Regions from separate parts of the Homo sapiens genome. Here region 2 is linked to region 1. Evidence: fine-mapped expression QTL. A gene starts in region 1. The other region holds a variant in brackets. All regions are shown on one strand. Distances are from middle to middle. Region 1 holds the start of ASTE1 (asteroid structure-specific endonuclease 1). Region 2 overlaps ATP2C1 (ATPase secretory pathway Ca2+ transporting 1).

Region 1 (9,619 bases):
TCTACTAAAAATACAAAAATTAGCCAGGTGTGGTGGTGCATGCCTGTAATCCCAGCTACTTGGGAGGCTGAGGTGGGAGAATCACTTGAACCTGGGAGGTGGAGGTTGCAGTGAGCCAAGATCGTGCCACTGCACTTCAGCCTGGGAGACAGAGTGAGACTCCGCCTCAAAAAAAAAAAAAAACTGATTAATTTACTAAAAAGAAACACTACCCAGGCCAAACAAAAGACATCTGAAAGCCACATGTGGCCAGTATGCAATATGTTTTAGATTCTGATGATGAATGATTCCTTTCCCAGAGATTGTGGACTAGACCTTCTGGTGCCAAATGATTTTTGTCCGTTATCCTCACCACTGGATTCATTCCACAAACATGTCTGCCATCTTCAGCTCCAGTCATGTGTTTTTTTAAGATTGGTTCAGGTACAAGAAAGATCACTAACAAATCACTTGCCAACCAACCAGCCCCAGCCCCCTTTCTTCTCTCTCATTCTCTTTCTCTCTCTCTTCCCCGCTGACTACAAACACACTCTCTCCACTCACTTATTATCTTAAGTCTAAAGGTTTCAAGTTTGATCTTCATACATCTTATTTTACATCCTTTTAATTAACTTTTTAGTCCTCCTGTGAATTATCTTAAAATTTTTCATATTCCTCATTAGTTGAAGAAACCAAAATTGGATATGATCCTACAGTGTAGTTTTTAGAAGTACTGGGTCTGGTTTAGGTCTTACTCTCAATGTTTCCATAAAGGTTATCTAATAATTGTCAGAAATTTATCATTCTATTCTAAATGGCTAGAAGAGCACCTCTAGGATTAAAGAGAAAAAATCCTTTTCAGCAGGAATCATAATGCATGTTCTAAGGACATCAGAAAAATGCCAGCTCTTTTATCATCCCTCATGTAGAAATTGACTAAAAACTATAAATTCTAGATAATTACAGCTTTTAAAAATTCTGGACAGAGACCATTTAAAAGATTGAGTTTTAAAACAAAGTAGTAACATCACTAACATTTACCTTTACAATTCCTATGACCTATGAAGATGTAGAAAAGTGTTTATCACACTGATTTTAAATCCACTCTTAAATATCCAATAGGCAAAAGCTGGAAGAACTTAGAGTAGCCTTAAAACCTTAGAAGAAAACAATATATTATGGGATGAAAATGTGGTCTTCTGGGGTTAAGGGCTGATATCTTGGATCATTCTTCCTTCTGCTTTCTGTTCCTCCTGTGTTTCTGATAGGCAAGTTTCTTACCCTAACTTCAGTTCCAACTTACTTTCCACTGCAGCAAATTAAAAAAACTTTACACAAAAACTAGAGGTTTATCTGTAAGGGAGGTACTGTCTGAAGCTATTAAGAGTTTTTCTCTACTATGAAAGTGTAGAGGGTCCGATCATAATCAAAAGAGACGAGGTGACAAGGGGGTCATTAACATAAGCTAATTTTAAATAGGAGTGTCCATTTGGTTTAAGTGTTTAATCTGACAGCTTTCTGACTACGGAATTTGAAAATCCTCGCCATGGAAAGCCCAAAGAAAATTAATACTGTTACTTTCTTTGGTATACCCTATTCATCTCAAATGTGAATAATTGTTTATTTGCATTTTGTAACATTTCTAAAAATAGTCATTATGAACAATTCTTATTTTCTCATTCAAGAAGTTCCAATCAAGTTAAGTGGAAGTAATATTGTCACTGAGACTGTGGCATGCCCAAACATCTTATTTTCACATAATCTATCCCATTTCTAGCTCCCTTCTTTAGGTCATTTGGATACTTTATTCACCTGCTGAAATGCCTTTAAACCTAATATGAAAGATTAATTAGGGAGCTTACCTATATTTATGAAATACTTGCTTTGGTATAAAGAGCAAAGTGGACATTACTCCATGTTCTTTTTTTTTTTTTGTCAGTCTTGCTCTGTTGCCCAGGCTGGAGGGCAGTGGCATGATCTCGGCTCACTGCAACCTCCACCTCCTGGGTTTAAGCAATTCTTGTGCCTCAACCTCCAAGTAGCTGAGATCACAGGCATGTACCACCCTGCCTGGCTAATTTTTGTATTTTTAGTAGAGACAGGGTTTTGCCATGTTGGCCAGGCTGGTCTTGAACTCCTCGCCTCAAGTGATCTGCCAACCTTGGCCACCCACAGTGCTGGGATTACAGGCATGAGCCACCATACCTGGCCTGCTCCATGTTCCTAATCAGCTAAGACCTGCAAACAAAAAGCAGCCTACTCAAGATTCATAGGAAGCATTTTTACTTACAATTCCTCTCCTCGTTTGGCTTTCTTGTCTGAAACCAGATAGACAGTTCCAAAACTTCCACTGCCAAGTTTTTGTTGAAGCACGTATCTTCTTGCAATCAAGGTCTTTGGATAAGTGGAAATGGCTGTTGATCCACTCACACACTTAGCTGCCTCTTGGAATTTCAGCATTGCTCCAAACAAGAGAGAACTGGTTCATTCATTTATAGAAACTTAACATTCCAGTCTCCTAAGAAATGGTCAAATTCATCCAGTGTTGGTCAGTTCCTTAAAGATGAAAAGTTAAAAGATCAGGTCTAAAGGTTGCTAAACGATGTCTAACAAAAAGTGTTAAGTGCAGTGATATCTGCACCTTGATCAGCAGACTGACACCATATTGGTTAACAACTTGAAAAAAAATGTTAAAAGGTAGAGATACCACAAATTCCAGAAGGCAATCTTTCACAGGAAGAGCCTCCCTTTGTACATTGAAATTTGGCAGAAGTGAATTATAGCCAACTTTCCACAAATTTCTGGGATGTACATCTGTTTTACAATGAGCAATCTCTTCATTTATTTAAGATTTATACTCCCCAACTACTTATAAAAGAATCCAAATACAAGAACATTATCACCTCCTTAAATCTATACATCTGCATCAACCTTTTTGTAATGCCCTCTTCTCACCTTATATTTACTTTGGTTTACAAAGAGTGAGTTAGGATTAAACAAGGAATTAGCAGGTGCTGTTTCCTTTAGATTTATTTTTTTCTGTAGATGTTAAACCACAGTTTTTGTATTTATTAGGACAGATGCAAAGAAGGATAAGGATTGAGAATTTTTTCCCATGCTCAGCAAATTCTAGTTTCTGAAGTTCCTATTGTACACATTGTGTATAATCTCTCTGGATTAAAAACAGGAAGAGTTACAAATTCAATTCAAACCTAAAATCCCATTTAATGTCAGTGGAATATAAATGCTACAGATAAATCTGTAATTCCTCAGGGAGCTATGAGACGTGGCAGTTATGAAAGGCAGGACTGTTTAGGCCGGGCGCAGTGGCTCACGCCTGTAGTACCAGCACTTTGGGAGGCCAAGGCGGGCGGATCACGAGGTCAGGAGATCGAGACCATCCTGGCTAACACGGTGAAACCCCGTCTAATACAAAAAAATTAGCCGGGCATTGTAGCGGGCGCCTGCAGTCCCAGCTACTCGGGAGGCTGAGGCAGGAGAATAGCGTGAACCCAGGAGGCGGAGCTTGCAGTGAGATCTCGCCACTGCACTCCAGCCTGGGCGACAGAGTAAGACTCCATCTCAACAAAAACAAAAACAAAAACAAAAACAAAAAAAAGAAAGGCAGGACTGTTTCATATGAGTAGGTACAAAGTAAAATCACTTTTATTTCATCAGAATGTTAAATGTTTTGTTAGTTATCAAGAAAAGTGTGCTTTTGTTTTAAATCTATATAGAAATAACATTTTAAATTGAAAACTGCCTACACCTTGAAGTTAGGTTTTCATATTCAACAATTCCAAAGCTATGAGACAAAAACCTAGTTTTTAAGGATGGTCAATGGGCTTTACGTGGTGGTGTCCGTCAACCACAAAAACTACTAGGGCAATTAACCACAAAAATCCTCAAAACAGAACATAAGTAAATGCCCATTTACAACATTTTCCTTCTTAAAATGTATGAATCAGTTAAGTTGTACCTAATACCAGTGAGATTAGTTACCAGCTTTTTCTTTTCCCTTCCAAAGACACGTTAGTAAAATCTGCTGGAAAAACAACTACAGAGCAGGCCTCTAAATATACCTTTTGTTTTTACTTCCCCTTCACTGTCATAAAAGTGATGCCGTCTGGCCATACTAAGCTGTTCAAATAAATATATGGACTTACAGACTTTCCAGCTGAAAAGGGTCCTTCAGGTCACTCAGTAATTCTCCTTATTTTAAAGATGAGATTAAGGTTCCTTTTAGAGAAGGACAGAATTAGGGACGGACAGAATGAGAAGTTCACTTCTAGCGGCTCTTATTTTAAAGGACAGTCTAAACCCAGCAGTGCTTAAGTAGTCTGGTCCAGGCTGCAGAAGACTCTGGGACTAGGTTCCCTCCCGCCCACCCTCACAGACTCAGCCCTGCCACCCCCATCCCAGTCCACTTTTAGGTCATCCATTCCATTAGTCTCCTCTGCGCAACCATAAACCTACCCAAGAATGTGTCGCATTGTCTAGATTCTAGAACTATCTGTTCACTTGACAACACGCTCCCCCTCGAGGTTTGAGTGAACTTGGGCACTGCGAACACATCTTCTTTATTTCTGCATCCCCAATCCCTGGCATACCTCCTGGCATATACTAGGTGTTTAACAAACCTTGTTAAGGCAAGTAAGTGTCCAGCAGATCAACTGCCGCCCAAAGGAGAGAAAAAAGGTTAGTTAAGAAAGCTAGATGGGAACTTGGAGAAAGTTACTACCTTGTGCAAACTACCCGTTCTCGGTGAAACAGATCTGGCTGGGGGCAAAAGACAACGGAAGGAGTATTTATCACAAGTTGAAAACCAGTAGTTATCTTCCCAGGTAATAAGAGGAAGGCAATTTGTCACCAGTTTCTGCTACAGCACAAATCTACCTTTAAAGTAAATCTTAACCTTAAGGTAAAACGAACAATTCCTTGCTTCTTCACCTTTTTAAACATTTACATTTTGGCAAAGCAGGTTAACGTTTATTGAGGGGCACTGAGACTGGAGTACATCCGGAGGTAAGATGTCCAGGAAAGCGAGGAGATCGCAGCCATGGCGTCCTAGAGATTCGGAACCCAGCCCGGGCAGCTTGAAACCATTACCTTCCCCCTCGCAGGGGAGCCTGGCTAGCCCCAAGGAGGACAGTTCGCTTTACCTTTCCCTGTCGTGGTCGGAGCGGCGCCCGGGGCTGCCCAAGTCTTGCGGGTAATCGGGCAGGCCTCAAACTAGGGGCAACCACACCCACCGAGCGCCAGACACCGCGGGCCACGGCTGTTTGGAACCGTGGCCAGGGAGACGGCGCGGGGCATACTGGGAAGTCGGGGCGAGGCGGCACCAAGGCGGAAGTGTTCGCCGACCCAAGTAGGCGGAGAAAGCAGAGGAGGACCGGCGGGCCAAGCTTTCCTAGCCTGACAGCAGCCATTTCGGAACGTACGTCCCAGCCCTCTTTAGCTACTTAGCGCCTCTGGGCCCGAGAACACCTGCTCCTTGGCTCAGTCTGGCGCCACCGGCATCACGGAACTGTACTTCCCAGAGACGTCACACCGGGAGACTTCCGATTCCCGCTCTTGAGATTGGACTCTCACGTGCAGGAGCCAGTCCTCGCTGGGCTCTAGCGGGCTTCTGATGGAGGAGCTACTCCTCTGGGAGGACAGAGTAGGTGGGCTCTGCTGCAGGTCCGGGCGGCGGGTTGTGAGGGCCGAGGTGGCACGGTGTATGAAGGCCTGTGTTTGAAGACTTAGGTCAGACCTTTTGCCCGCCTTTCCCCTATGCAGCTCTATGCAACTGTCTGTGCAAGGTCCTGTAATTTGCGTAGGACGCCTTGACACAGTCTCTGCTTATGGACGCTTTACAAAACTATCTTGCAAAGAAATAAGTACTATACAGGATAAGGTTCTGAGATACTGACAGGGCTGGAACTAGGGTGAGATAAGTGTAAAATGTAAATGGATGCCAATAAAATTCAGTAATCAAGGTAAGTTTTAATGCAATCTCTAAAAATCAAAATTATAGCAAAAAAAATCCATGACTGACAAAATGTCACGATTTTAAGTAATAGTAACAGTACCGTGCTGTGCCATATTGAAGCCCGAGGTGTCAAAAGAAAAACCATCAATTCTGATCCTGCGAGTTAAGTTAGCCAGGTGAGGAAGCGTAGCTGGGCCAGATATGCAAAATAAGATGATGAAAAGAGCTCGTGGTTAGGGGTGTAACTGGATAGAGGGGTTCCTAGAGGCATGAAGCAGTTTTCCTTATACCAAAAACTATGCCAATTAAGAAGGGCCCACAAATCCAAAGCCTGAAAGAAGTTCCGTGACTGATTGTCAATACAAAAGAAAAACTTGATCCTTATCATAGGTCCTACACACCTTACTTTACTGAAGCCCAAATGCTTTGTGATTATGAGATGAATATGATATCTTTTTTTTAGCTTAGGACTTTTTACTTTGACCCCACAAAACAAATACTCTGTGCTGTAAGATGTTGACTATTACCACTTAAGAATCAAAGTTCACAGAACTTCTATACTGGTGTGTCAGTAATGGACTTCAACTGATTTTTCTTTAGAATTAGCAGCAGCCTCTGTCACCATCCAAAGATTACAACCCATGAAACCATTGAATTTGTGCCTTGTATCAGAAAGCAAAGGAGAATGAAAAAGCACAGCTAACATTGCTTGAGGATCTAGGTAAGAATTTATGATGTTGATATCTATGTTCTATCTAAAGAGCACTTCATAACATTTGCTATTGATTTAATGGTGCTGGAAGCAATGACTTGGTGCCCCATAACTAGCATCAATTGAAAATGTTTTCTGTTGTTTTAAACAGGCGATTAATTCTTTAGACTGTCATCATGGGTATCCGAGGACTAATGAGTTTTGTGGAAGATCATAGTAATGAGTTCTTCACTGATTTGAAGTTGCGGGACACAAAAATTGTCATTGATGGTTATGCTCTTTTCCACCGTCTTTGCTTCAGTTCAAACTTGGATCTCCGGTATGGAGGGGACTATGATTCTTTTGCAGATGTTGTACAAAAATTCTTTGAATCACTGTTTGCTTGTAATATATGCCCATATGTTGTATTAGATGGAGGATGTGACATTTCAGATAAAAAGCTTACAACTTTAAAGGATAGAGCTAGAGAGAAGATCCAGATGGCCCATTCCCTTTCTGTTGGTGGGAGTGGGTACGTATGTCCCTTACTCATCCGGGAAGTATTCATACAGGTTTTGATCAAGCTGCGGGTGTGTTTTGTCCAGTGCTTTTCAGAAGCAGATCGGGACATTATGACACTTGCTAACCATTGGAATTGCCCTGTGTTATCATCAGATAGTGACTTTTGCATTTTTGACCTGAAAACTGGGTTTTGCCCATTGAATAGCTTTCAGTGGAGAAATATGAACACTATTAAGGGCACACAAAACTATATCCCTGCCAAATGCTTTTCCCTTGATGCATTCTGCCATCACTTCAGCAATATGAATAAAGCTCTACTACCTCTCTTTGCGGTGCTATGTGGAAATGACCATGTTAATCTACCCATCATGGAGACATTCTTAAGTAAAGCGCGTCTTCCTCTTGGAGCTACCAGTTCTAAAGGGAGGAGACACCACCGAATCCTGGGACTTCTGAATTGGTTGTCTCATTTTGCCAACCCTACCGAAGCACTAGATAATGTTCTGAAATACCTCCCAAAAAAGGATCGAGAAAATGTTAAGGAACTTCTCTGCTGTTCCATGGAAGAATACCAACAGTCCCAGGTGAAGCTACAGGACTTCTTCCAGTGTGGTACTTATGTCTGTCCAGATGCCTTGAATCTTGGTTTACCAGAATGGGTATTAGTGGCTTTAGCTAAAGGCCAGCTATCTCCTTTCATCAGTGATGCTTTGGTCCTAAGACGGACCATTCTTCCCACACAGGTGGAAAACATGCAGCAACCAAATGCCCACAGAATATCTCAGCCCATCAGGCAAATCATCTATGGGCTTCTTTTAAATGCCTCACCACATCTGGACAAGACATCCTGGAATGCATTGCCTCCTCAGCCTCTAGCTTTCAGTGAAGTGGAAAGGATTAATAAAAATATCAGAACCTCAATCATTGATGCAGTAGAACTGGCCAAGGATCATTCTGACTTAAGCAGATTGACTGAGGTAAGTATTTGTAATACTAATGAAATTTTTGTAAAGTACTTTACAGGATACAAAGTGCTGTCTTCTATATTAGTTCACTTACTATAACAAACTGATGAGGTTGAGTGCTATCTTGCCCTCATGTCGTAGCTAAGAAATCTAGAACTTGAGTGAACTAGGTAATGTCTTAGCCAGAAAGTGTCAGTGCTAGGACTCAAACCTAGCTCTTTTAGCTCTAAATCTACCATTTCCACTGTACTTCAGTAGTCTGTGTTATCGTCACAGTTATTACTACTATATTGTTATTACTACCAGGTTAATACTAGCTATCAATAGAATGGGTTACGTGGCTGAAAAAAAAAGGAAAAAAATTCACAACTGCAAAAAAAGTGTATAGACACTAATCATAGGCACAACATCTCAGACTACATCGGATTTCAGATAAGGTTAGTACTGATGCTAAGGTCTAATTTTTTAACTTTTATTAATGAATACCTTTTTTAAAATAGGTTTTTGTGTCATTATGGTTATTTGCCTAGTTTGATACAGAAAACATGACTCTTAGTCTAACTTAGTGTTGCTTAAACCTGAGTAACACCCAGACCACCTTTTCAAGGAGAAAAAAATTCTCATGGATCCCAGTGTTGTCTTTTTATATTACATATATATTTAAAATTACAAATAGATATGAAACTATGCTGATAAAAGAACTAGATTTAGACATTAAATAGAGATAACTTAAAAAAAAAACAATTGCAATGCCCATTAGGGGATCTTCTTAGATCCAATGAAATATTCAGTCTCACAAAACTCACAGACCACACGTGGCACCAGTCTACTTAAGGATGTAGGACGGCAACCACAGCTTCCCAGTGGATTTAAGTCAGGTCTTCCTTTTCTGTCAGAGTTCTCCCAGCACTGTTATCAGTCTACACCAAAGCTTTATCACCATTGGTGATTTTGTCCCCCAGAGGACATCTGGCAATGCCTGGAGACATTTTTGTTGTCCCTACCTAGGGAGTAGAAGGGGTAGTGGTTGCTATCGGTATCTAGTGGGGAGAGGCCAAAGATGCTGCTAAATTTTACAACCTGTAAGTCTTACAGTGCACAGGAAAGTGTCCCATAACAAAGAATCTCTAGCCCAAAATATCAGTAGTGCCATTCCCTGGGCTATACAGCTGACCAGGAACTAGCCTCTTAGCCTCCTCTTCAGTCACATCTCAGACAGGAGGAGATGAATGTCATAGTGAATGAGTGCAAGAGCCTTCTTGGCATTGGGCAGTGAGTCCAAGAGCCTTCTTGGCATTGGCGAGTGACTGTTAAACCCCCAGGGTTTCTTTGGTTGGGGGTGAAGAAAATGTTTTGGAATTAGTGATGGCTGCACAAGTTTATAAATATACTAAACCAAGGCAAGATGGCTCATGCCTGTAAGCCCAGCACTTTGGAAGGCCAAAGTGGGAGGATCACTTGAGGCCAGTAGTTCAAGACCAGCCTGGG
Region 2 (9,619 bases), 65 kb after region 1:
ACACATAAACTATGAACCTATCACTGTGTCTTAAGTTATTATGAAGAAAGTCACCATCTTGGAAAAAAAAATATTTACCTCAACAATTCTGCTAACAGCTGGGTTATAGAATCCATGAACAACATCACCATCAACAATCACTTCCCCAAATTGATTATAGCCAACTCCAGTAACCTAAAGATCACAAAGTGGGATCAATAATACAAACACTACAAACACTTGGTGGTGACAAGACCTATAAAACCCAAAAACTATAATGAGTTCTGTTCATTTTATTTATAATGACACTGTTAAAAGTGTTCACCTAGAAAAGCATTAAAATTTGTCTTTAAAAAGGACATTTAGTAAAGAAATATAGATTCTAATTCTCATCACAATTATTAATCTAAAAAGACATTGTTTTCTAATTACAATATACTGTTAAAAGAATAAGCTATGAAAATATACATAAGTAAGCTTAAACTTATATGACATTACACTTATATAGCATACTACAGTTTGCAAAGAACTCAAATGCATTACCATATGTAACATACAACACAAAGCTGTGACTTAGACAAAAGCAGTATTCTTTTTGCAAACATGCAGGCCTGGAGACATTGAGATATATGCTAGCACTTACAAATCACTTTAACACAGCATATTACACACCAATTTTAAAAATCAGAGGTAGAGACAAACCAGGTATTTATATCATATGTCTAGAACAAACCAAGCCAAACGAAAAGAAATTTCACAATAAAAATCATACAATTTAGTGGCCAGGTGTGGTGGCTCACATCTGTAATCCTAACACTTGGGAGGCTGGGACAGGAGAATCACTTTAGCCCAGGAGTTCAAGACCAGCCTGGGCAACAAAGCAAGATCCATCTCTATTAAAAATAAAAATAAATAAAAAATGTTTAATGACATTAATTGAGAGATAAAACAATTAACAAATAGTTAATGCATTACATATAGCATGACCTTAAAACAAAAGAAAAACTAATATTCTACCTTCCATACCTGGATCATATAAGCACATGTAATCCCAATGACCCTTCTGAATCATCCAGAAAGGGCACATTCACCAACACAGCATGGGGGATCTTTGACCAGATCTAACACCGTAAATATCAAGAGTCTCTTTTCAAAACCTATGTAAAATGGACGTAAATAAACCCAAGTACAACTTCTGTCAATTTGCCTACTGCTTATTTTTCTCAATGAATTAGCTATAAATACATTTTAAATCACTGTACCCAACATAAGTAGTGTTAAGAGCATTCCAGTCAGAAATCCTGCATAGACTGAGTAGGATTAGACCTGTCCATAAGCACCTTCAGGAAGAACTACTGCACAGTGATGTGCACTTAAGAGACAATGTATCAATATATAATTGTTAAAATAAAGTGATTCATTCATTCATTCATTTATCGAGTATTTATTACTATGAAGCAGGCTGTGTGCTAGGCAATATAGCTCCTGCTCTCTTATAATGGGGAAAAGGGACAGAAAATTTTACCTAAGATAAGGACTAAGAGGTATGAAATGCTAAGACAACATATAACATAGGGCCACTTCTGGGTGTTCTGAAGAAGTGGGTTGGAATTAAGGTGCAAAGGATGAAGAGGCATTAGACTATCCTAAACAGTGACAAAGGCAGCAAAGTTCTTAAAGTAGGAATAATTGTGTCACATCGAAAGAACTATAAAGCCAGTATACTTGGTGCACAGAAAGCAAAGGGTAGCATATAAGGGTAGAGGAGAAAATAAGGGACAGAACATGTACGGCTTTGAGACGCCACAGTTCAGGATCCTGATCACAATGGAAAACCATTGGAGTACCTTAATTTATGGAGTGACATGCTTAAAATTTGGTTCTAAAAAGATCCCTCAAACTGCTTATGGAGTGAGGGCATCAAGAATGGAAAAAGACCAGTCAAAAAGCTTTATCAGAATGGCAGGTGAGAAATGGCGGTAACTTAAAGAAGCTGGCTATAAAGTAGATGGCTGGGAAAATTCTTTAGGAAGTCAAAATTGGTAGGATTTGATTATGGATAGATGAAGGGGTGACTGAAAGAGAGATGTCAAGGAGGAATCAAAGTTTTTGGATTGAACAAGTGTACAAGTGGAATGAGACAAAGACTTGGTAAAATCACAGAGAGAGAAAATAACTCCACTACTAATTTACAGCCCTTTTGAAGGTAAGACACTGGAACTGTTAGGAATGTTAAACACCAAGTTTCTTAAAGGGATACTGTTTTTGTTTGTTTTTAAAAACCTATAGAGTACCTCAGCATGCAGACCATCTGAAGTAAATATGTGAGTAACAGTCATTTCATTCTTCGTCAGTGTTCCAGTTTTATCTGAACAAATCACATTACAGCAGCCTAAAGAATTAAATCATTACAAGTCACCAAAAGAATCAAGGAGAAATATAGGTTCACTTAAAAAACAAATCAAAGACTAGAATCCTGTCCTACTTCTCTGAATTTTATAGAAATCAAACTCATTGTTAATTTTAGATTAACTTCTCTCATTATGCTTGTTTCAGCATAAGGTACAGTTTCTGAAATTAAAAATAAAAATTAGATGATGACATGTTCTTATTTATATACAGTTAGTTTCTACAAAGCTACTTCACATTAGCTTTATGTAATGATCTTATATAACATCTTTTCTAGAAAGTTTGGAGAGTTTCTAAATATAAACCCGTATAATTTCTTCAATCAGGATTTTTCAAGGTATTTCAGCTTCTCATATATGGAGAAGATATTAAAATACAAACTAGAAATTAAATTCAGTACATTTTTGGAGTTTCAAAGCATATTGCACATAAAGTTTTGTTACAGCAATATAACTACTGTAAATTTACTGTTCTTACAGGCAAATTCAACTCAAGTATGACATTTGGGATCTGTAATAATACATTATCTTCTTTGACATGTCACAAGAAAAAAATTCTATTAATTTTACTCCAAGATTTCAGTTGTTGTATGGATTTTCTTAACATGATTTGTGCATTAGAACATGATGTAGAAAGATTTCTCTTCAAGTCCCCTCACCTAAGGGATAGGAATTTTTAATTGCCTTTTTTGGTTGTTAAAACCATATCCAATTTTGCCATAAGCCAAACATCATTATGCAAATCTCTAAGATAAAAACTGTAAAACTCTGAGATGATTCACTATTGACATAAACTTACGCATCATTGCATAAGAATGCTCTTAACACAGACTTACCCAGAGTTTCAACAATAGGCAGCTTTTTCACAATGGCCCTTTTCTTCACCATTCTCATAACACCAAGAGCTAGCGTCACTGTGACCACAATGGGGAGACCTTCAGGAATTGCTGCTACAGCCAAACTATAACCAACATATACAAAGTATTAAAATGTAGGTTAAACAGCACTCACAGCAAAATTTAAATTGGATGTTACTTAAAGCTTAATAAAACGCAAAATTAATATAGTCAATACCTAAAAAATAAACTTCTCAAAAGGAAGAGAAAGTTAACATTTACTGGATACCTAGTAGCTGCCAGGTTAAGCACAGTGGTTAAAAAATGTAGGTTCTGACATCAAATTGCCTGGATTTGTATCCCTGGCTTCACCATCTCTTACTTGTGTGATCCTGGGCTACTTACTAATCTAGCTCTGTAGTTTACTGTCCTCATCTATAAAATACAGATAACTACAAATGTTCAAACAAAAACTCATACATGAATGTTCACGGCAACACTATTCACGATAGCCAAAAGATGGAAACAGGCCAAATATTCATCAACTGATAAATGTAAAATTGTGACATCCATGCAATGGAGTATTACTTTAGCCACAAAAAGGAATGAAGTACTAACACATGCTACAACATGAATAAACCTTGAAAACATTATGCTAAGTGAAAAAAGACAGATACAAAAGGTCCCATATTATATCATTTCATTTATATGAAATATCTAGAATAGGCAAATCCATAGAGATAGCAGATTAGTGAGTGGTTGCCAGGGACTAGGGGAAGAGGAAAACTGGGGAGTGACTGCTTAATGTGTACAGGGTTTTCTTCTGGCATGATGAAAAGGTTCTGAATCTAGATAGCGGTTAACAGTTGTAAAACATTGCGACCATACTTAACTCCACCAAATTAACTCTTTAAAACTGTAAATTTTATAATATGCGTATTTTATCACAGTTTAAAGAATTATTTCACTCGCCTTTTATAATTAAAAAATAACAAGTCTTTCTTTGTGCCATTCCAAATACTATTTCTTGATCTGCTAGAAATAAGGACATAAGCAATTTAACCCTTCATTCTACCACTGTTCCCTCTGCTGCTTCTACTTCCTAATTTCCATTACCAACTTTTTCTTTGCATAATCTAGTACATTAGCATCCTTTTCTATAACCGTAATTGACTTTTTCATGCTTTATTTACTGGTTGATTTTAAAGTTGAAAGCACATAAGCAACAACATTATTGGCTAAACAATACACACTGAAGAGTCAAGAAATATGTATTATCATTAATACTTCCTTTTCTCCTTTGGGCTACTCAAAGAGAATGTTCCTAGTTCAAATGGAATCCTTTTTTTTCTTTTTTCTTTTCTTTTTTTTTTTTTTTTTAATGCTTCCATTAAGGAAAAACAGGCATTATCACTTACAATCTAGATACAACGAATCTTTTCAATCTTTTATATTTAAGTCATCTTAGCAAAACTTTGCAGAGGAATAATTAAATTGTAAAAAAACTTCACTCTAAATTTTCATTTTAATGATAACCCAAAACT[A/G]TTCCTGGACTTGAAGGCATCTATACCTGAAATGGGTAACATCTTTTGGATGCAACTAACTGCTCATCTACTGCTTTTGGTGAACTTGGAACATATTTATCTTATAAATATTGATTTCAGATTTCAAAAAATATTTCTAACAGGCGCTAGCTTATTAATCTAGTTCTTCTTTCTTGCATTTGTTCTGTCAAATTGCAACACTTCTAAAACCACTGATGGCTCCCAATTGTGTTGAAAAGAGAACAGTTATCTTCTTTGGTCCATGACTGCAAAACATTTTCAATTTTAGATTTATAAACACCAATTACAATGATGAATCCAATGAATTTTTCTACTTCTGCATAATCTATTTCCTTTTAATCACTTTTATATTCATACCAGCCTTCAGCATTTCTCCACTTAAAAGCAGTATGAAGTCAATGCTGATAAACAAGCATCATAAAAGATGAATGAAATAGGGTCATGCATTCGTTTAGCTAAAAGAGATGGTCCAGATTCTTGCTGAAAACTACTACATGATAGAGTCCTTGCTGCAGAATGATTAACTGGAAGAGAATACCTGTTTCTTTTTTGTCCTTAAAAACAGATTGCTCACTCATCAAAATTAAGGTGTTTGAGAAGATCTAGAGTATCATCATCCAAAGACTCAGTCTTGAGATTTCACTTATATTATTAATTTCACCCACATCATTACGGCCTACAGTGCTTCTATTTGGCTCTTTGCACTGATCTTCTGATTTGTCTAATAATTGTGAAAAGTCTTCTCTGTCAATTATTCTCTTTGCCATTATAGTAGAAAGTGAAAAATTCTGAATTCTCATTTTTGTTCAATGAAAGCTGTAACAAACAAACCTAAAGATTGTGCCTTTAGACTTCTTTTACACCTTCTTAAATGATGCAATACTTTAGGCAACACAATAAGAAAACTAAAGAATAAGAGAATAGTGATTATTTACTTTATTATTACATCAACCTTCTCAATGATTCCATCATTTTTCTGCTTTCTTATTGTTTTAGTCATCTTCAGCACTCTTGCAAATAATTGTTAAAATAATTCCTAGGGTGAAGAAATTGTAAAATACTTCAAGAAAGAGGAAAAATAGGATCATTAAAGGTCCCATAATGTAGCTTATACTTATAAAAGATTCCAATGGATCCATACTGCAAAACAGAATTGCAAAATAGAATGAGTTTTATTCTATTTGAAAATTTTTAAGTATCTTGTCCTTTGGAAGACCTTGAAGAAAGAACAGAAGTTATGATATGTCAATCTGTACAAACAGAACTCAAAAAAAAAAAAACCCAAATCCTCAAAAACTAAAAATGATCCAATGGATAATATGTCAATGTTTAATATCTCAAACTTATTCCCCATTTTAAATGTATTTTATATTTAACCCATGGCGTTTTTAAACACAAATTTAAACCAAGAGTTTCAAATTGCATTTTCACCCCCTCCCTTGAGAAAAAAAAAAACACATTCTTTCACTATATCACAAATATCTTTTTACTTCTTATTCATTCTGATTCCTTGTAATCTATTTGACTTTTCTTTTTGAAAGACATTGACTTTTGTTCTAATATTTGAAATATTTCATATGCCTACAACAGAGGTCTACCAGGATTTCTTTTTCTTAGATGCCTAAGTAAGTTCTTGCCCTTTCTTATGTCTATTATCATCTTCCTTTCTTTCACCCTTGTTTTGCTGGAATTCATATAAGGATGGGTAGGAAATGAATGTTCTGAGTACTTGCCTACCTATTTGTCACTAATTGGACCAATCCTTTGGCTAGGCCCAATTTACAGATTTATGATCAATTGCCCCCCTAATTTGTTACCACGGCTCCACTTATTCTAATGCAATCTGATGTTGCTGTGGATGAACAGTTAATAAAATAATCTTCCCCTTCTGGATTTGATTAACTCTAGTTCTGTTCACCTAGTGACCTGGTAAGAATAATATGTCAAGTATGCTGCTAGATAACACTGCTATGATTAAGGGATCCCCTGACTAATAAAATCTCTCTGGACTAGGAAAGTTATAATTATCTTATAGGAAATCATAGCTTTGAGTTTCTCAAGTGTAGTAACTTGTAACTAGACATGTCCTTTGCAGGCATCTGGAAATGCATGTTTCAAAATACGTCTCTCATAGAACACGAGATATTTTAACCCAAGGTAGATCCCACACTCACAAGGTTGACCTTATCTCCTTGTACTTGAGTGAATTGCTACATGGACTGCTGCGGACTCTCAGGAGAAGGCTGCCTGAAGTTACCCTGCTGTGTTCAGGGCACAGGTATCAGATGTGGTCTGTGAAAGTCTTGTGAGTTGGAATGTTTAGAAGAACCCAAAAAGATCCTGTGGTAGAAACTGCAGTTGCTAATGAGAAGTCTGATGCCAGCGTAGTTACCCTTCCTTTGTAGATGACCTGACTTTTCTTCTTTAGTTTCACAATTATGTATCAAGGTTGAAGTTTTTTCCATTCTGCTTGGTATTTAGTGAATCCTTTCAATCTATAAAGACTTACTTTTTGCCTTAGCTTGAGAAAATACTTGTGTGTCATATCTTATGTAATTTTTGAAACTCCAATTAGTTACAAGTGGTATTTCCTGAAATTATTCCTCTTCATCATTTTATCTCATTCTAAGACTTTTTACTCTTTTTGGGGGGAGACCTCTTTGAATTTATATTACACCCCTACAATTGAATTTTTAATTTCAACAATCATAATCTTAATTTCTAAAAACTCTTTTTGTTCTCTGATCCTTTTCTACAACAATTTATCTCATGGATGCAGTTTCTTCACAAGTCTCTGAAAATACAAACACTTGGTTTTTAAATTTGTCATCATTTCTTCAATGTTTCGTTTTCCTCTGAAATTGATTATTCAATTTCTATATTGTGAACTTTCTCTTTCATGTTGCTAGTTTTCAATTTGACAATCCTTAATTGTATATTTATATATAAAAAGGCAATAATGCATTAGTAATTCCAGACATCTAGTATGGGTTTTCTTCATTACCATATACATACATTTTCATTTTTCTAAGGATAATTTTAATATATGACTTCTGAACTATTTATGTAGCGATGTTATACTCTTATGGGCTCCATGTAATACTGATCTCCATAATAAAACGTAAGCTATGTCCATTAGAGAAATAAAAGAGGCAAAAGAGACTCCAATTATAAAGTATTGAGACTTACCTTACACTAATAGTAAACATTTCCAGGATATCTTTTCCCAGTAACCAGCCAACCAACATGATGATTCCTGAAAGATAATTAAATAGTTATTTTTCCCTTTTACATACAATCACCTAGAAGGAACAGAACAAGCTGAAGGAATCTAAAACGTCCCTTGACAAAAAAGGGAAAGCATATCAGATCACAATTAGAAGATTTTATAAAAATCCATTAAACAGGGGAGGTTAAAGTTAACACTGCTTAATGTGAATGCTGTGCATACTCACATACGTACATGTGTGCACACACACACCACACATGCACACACACACACAGTTTTACTTTTGGTTGACACTGCTCCTACCATCCCTTAAAGCAGTAATATTTTATTATTTTTTTAAAAATTACCAGTATGTTCATACAATGAAAAAAAGAAGGTGGCAGCAAACATATAGGTCTTCTATTTAATATCAAATATGCAAAATTAAACCCTAAAACTTTATTTTCCATAACACAATATCCAGACACTTCTCAGCAAATCCATACTACACACAAAGGGACACTTACGACTTGGCTCAAAAAGTGATGTGCCTTACGTTAAGCACCTACAACTGCATTAACATCTAAAAATCACTACTTTTATGGCATTTCAAAAATTTAAAAATCAATTAAACCAATACTCCTTGCTTTAACCTTTTATCTTTGAAAAGAATAGGGGGAAAGGGGCGCACAAGCAGGTTTGTGAGGAAAAAGCAAACAGATTCACGAGAGGTTTGATAAAATAAGCTATCTCAAGACTGCAAATCAATATGAACATTTAAGACAAGTTTTTTTTTTCATCTTTATATAACTAAAGAATAATTATCCAAATAGCAACCTTCTAAGATCCTATCCCAAATACTATCATGATGAAAGAAATTATGTCCAAAGGATTATACCAGGGGTCAGCAAACTATAATCTGTGGGTCTCCTGTCTGCTTAGGTAAATGAAATTTGTTGGAACATAGCCACACTCATTTATTTACATATTTTCTATGATTGCTTTCATGCTAATGGCAAAGTAAAGTATTTCCAACAGAGACCATATGGACTAAAATATTTACTATCTAGTTCTTTACAAAAAACAAAAAAAAACAATTGCTGACCCCTGATCTAGCTCTTGACCTTGGCAAGAAAAATTATGTCCAATGTAATATACTAACATATAACCAGAGATCGTAAAGTTGAAACATATTTATTACTAAATTTGAAATGGTTTATGGTATAGTGCTAATAGAAACTACAAAGATTTAATTGGCTAGAATGTCATTCGATCTATCAAATTCACTATAAAATTTCTAGAAAATGAGCAATAATCAAACGGAAGAAGTTATGAGGGCATACACACCAGTAAAACAAAAATAACTAAGATAACTTCCTACCTTCTACTTTATGTTTACAATGAAGATAGATGGATAAACAGAATTACTATTTACAAAGTTATTTCAACTAATATTGTATTAACAGAAATATTGCTTTAAAATTGCATTAGTCCTGTAATCCCTGCACTTTGGGAGGCTGAGGTGGGCAATCACATGAGTTCAGGAGTTTGAGACCAGCCTGGCCAATGTGGTAAAATCCCGTCCCTATTAAAAATACAATAAAAAAATTAGCCAGGTGTGGT

Evidence for each region. PIP is the estimated chance that this variant, and not a neighbour inherited with it, causes the effect.
Region 2: its variant is the best candidate, but not a certain one, in a credible set for the expression of ASTE1 in substantia nigra (GTEx, PIP 0.60).

Annotation. Positions count from the first base shown.
Region 1 is chr3:131,022,529-131,032,147 of GRCh38, reverse strand. It overlaps ASTE1 (asteroid structure-specific endonuclease 1), which reads left to right and starts at 5,323. Exons shown (of 6, transcript NM_014065.4): 1 at 5,323-5,641; 2 at 6,554-6,674; 3 at 6,817-8,143. The coding sequence starts at 6,842. It overlaps NEK11 (NIMA related kinase 11), which reads right to left and starts at 5,271. Exons shown (of 18, transcript NM_024800.5): 1 at 5,142-5,271; 2 at 4,146-4,218; 3 at 2,270-2,535. The coding sequence starts at 2,439. RefSeq lists enhancers at 4,962-5,151, 5,232-5,291, 5,432-5,671.
Region 2 is chr3:130,957,700-130,967,318 of GRCh38, reverse strand. ATP2C1 (ATPase secretory pathway Ca2+ transporting 1) reads right to left here. Exons shown (of 28, transcript NM_001378687.1): 12 at 7,978-8,044; 13 at 3,224-3,348; 14 at 2,274-2,371; 15 at 79-174. Among named protein-coding and RNA genes, the nearest start is that of ASTE1, 64 kb to the left of the region's middle. The variant A/G (reference allele first, on the strand shown) is at 4,768.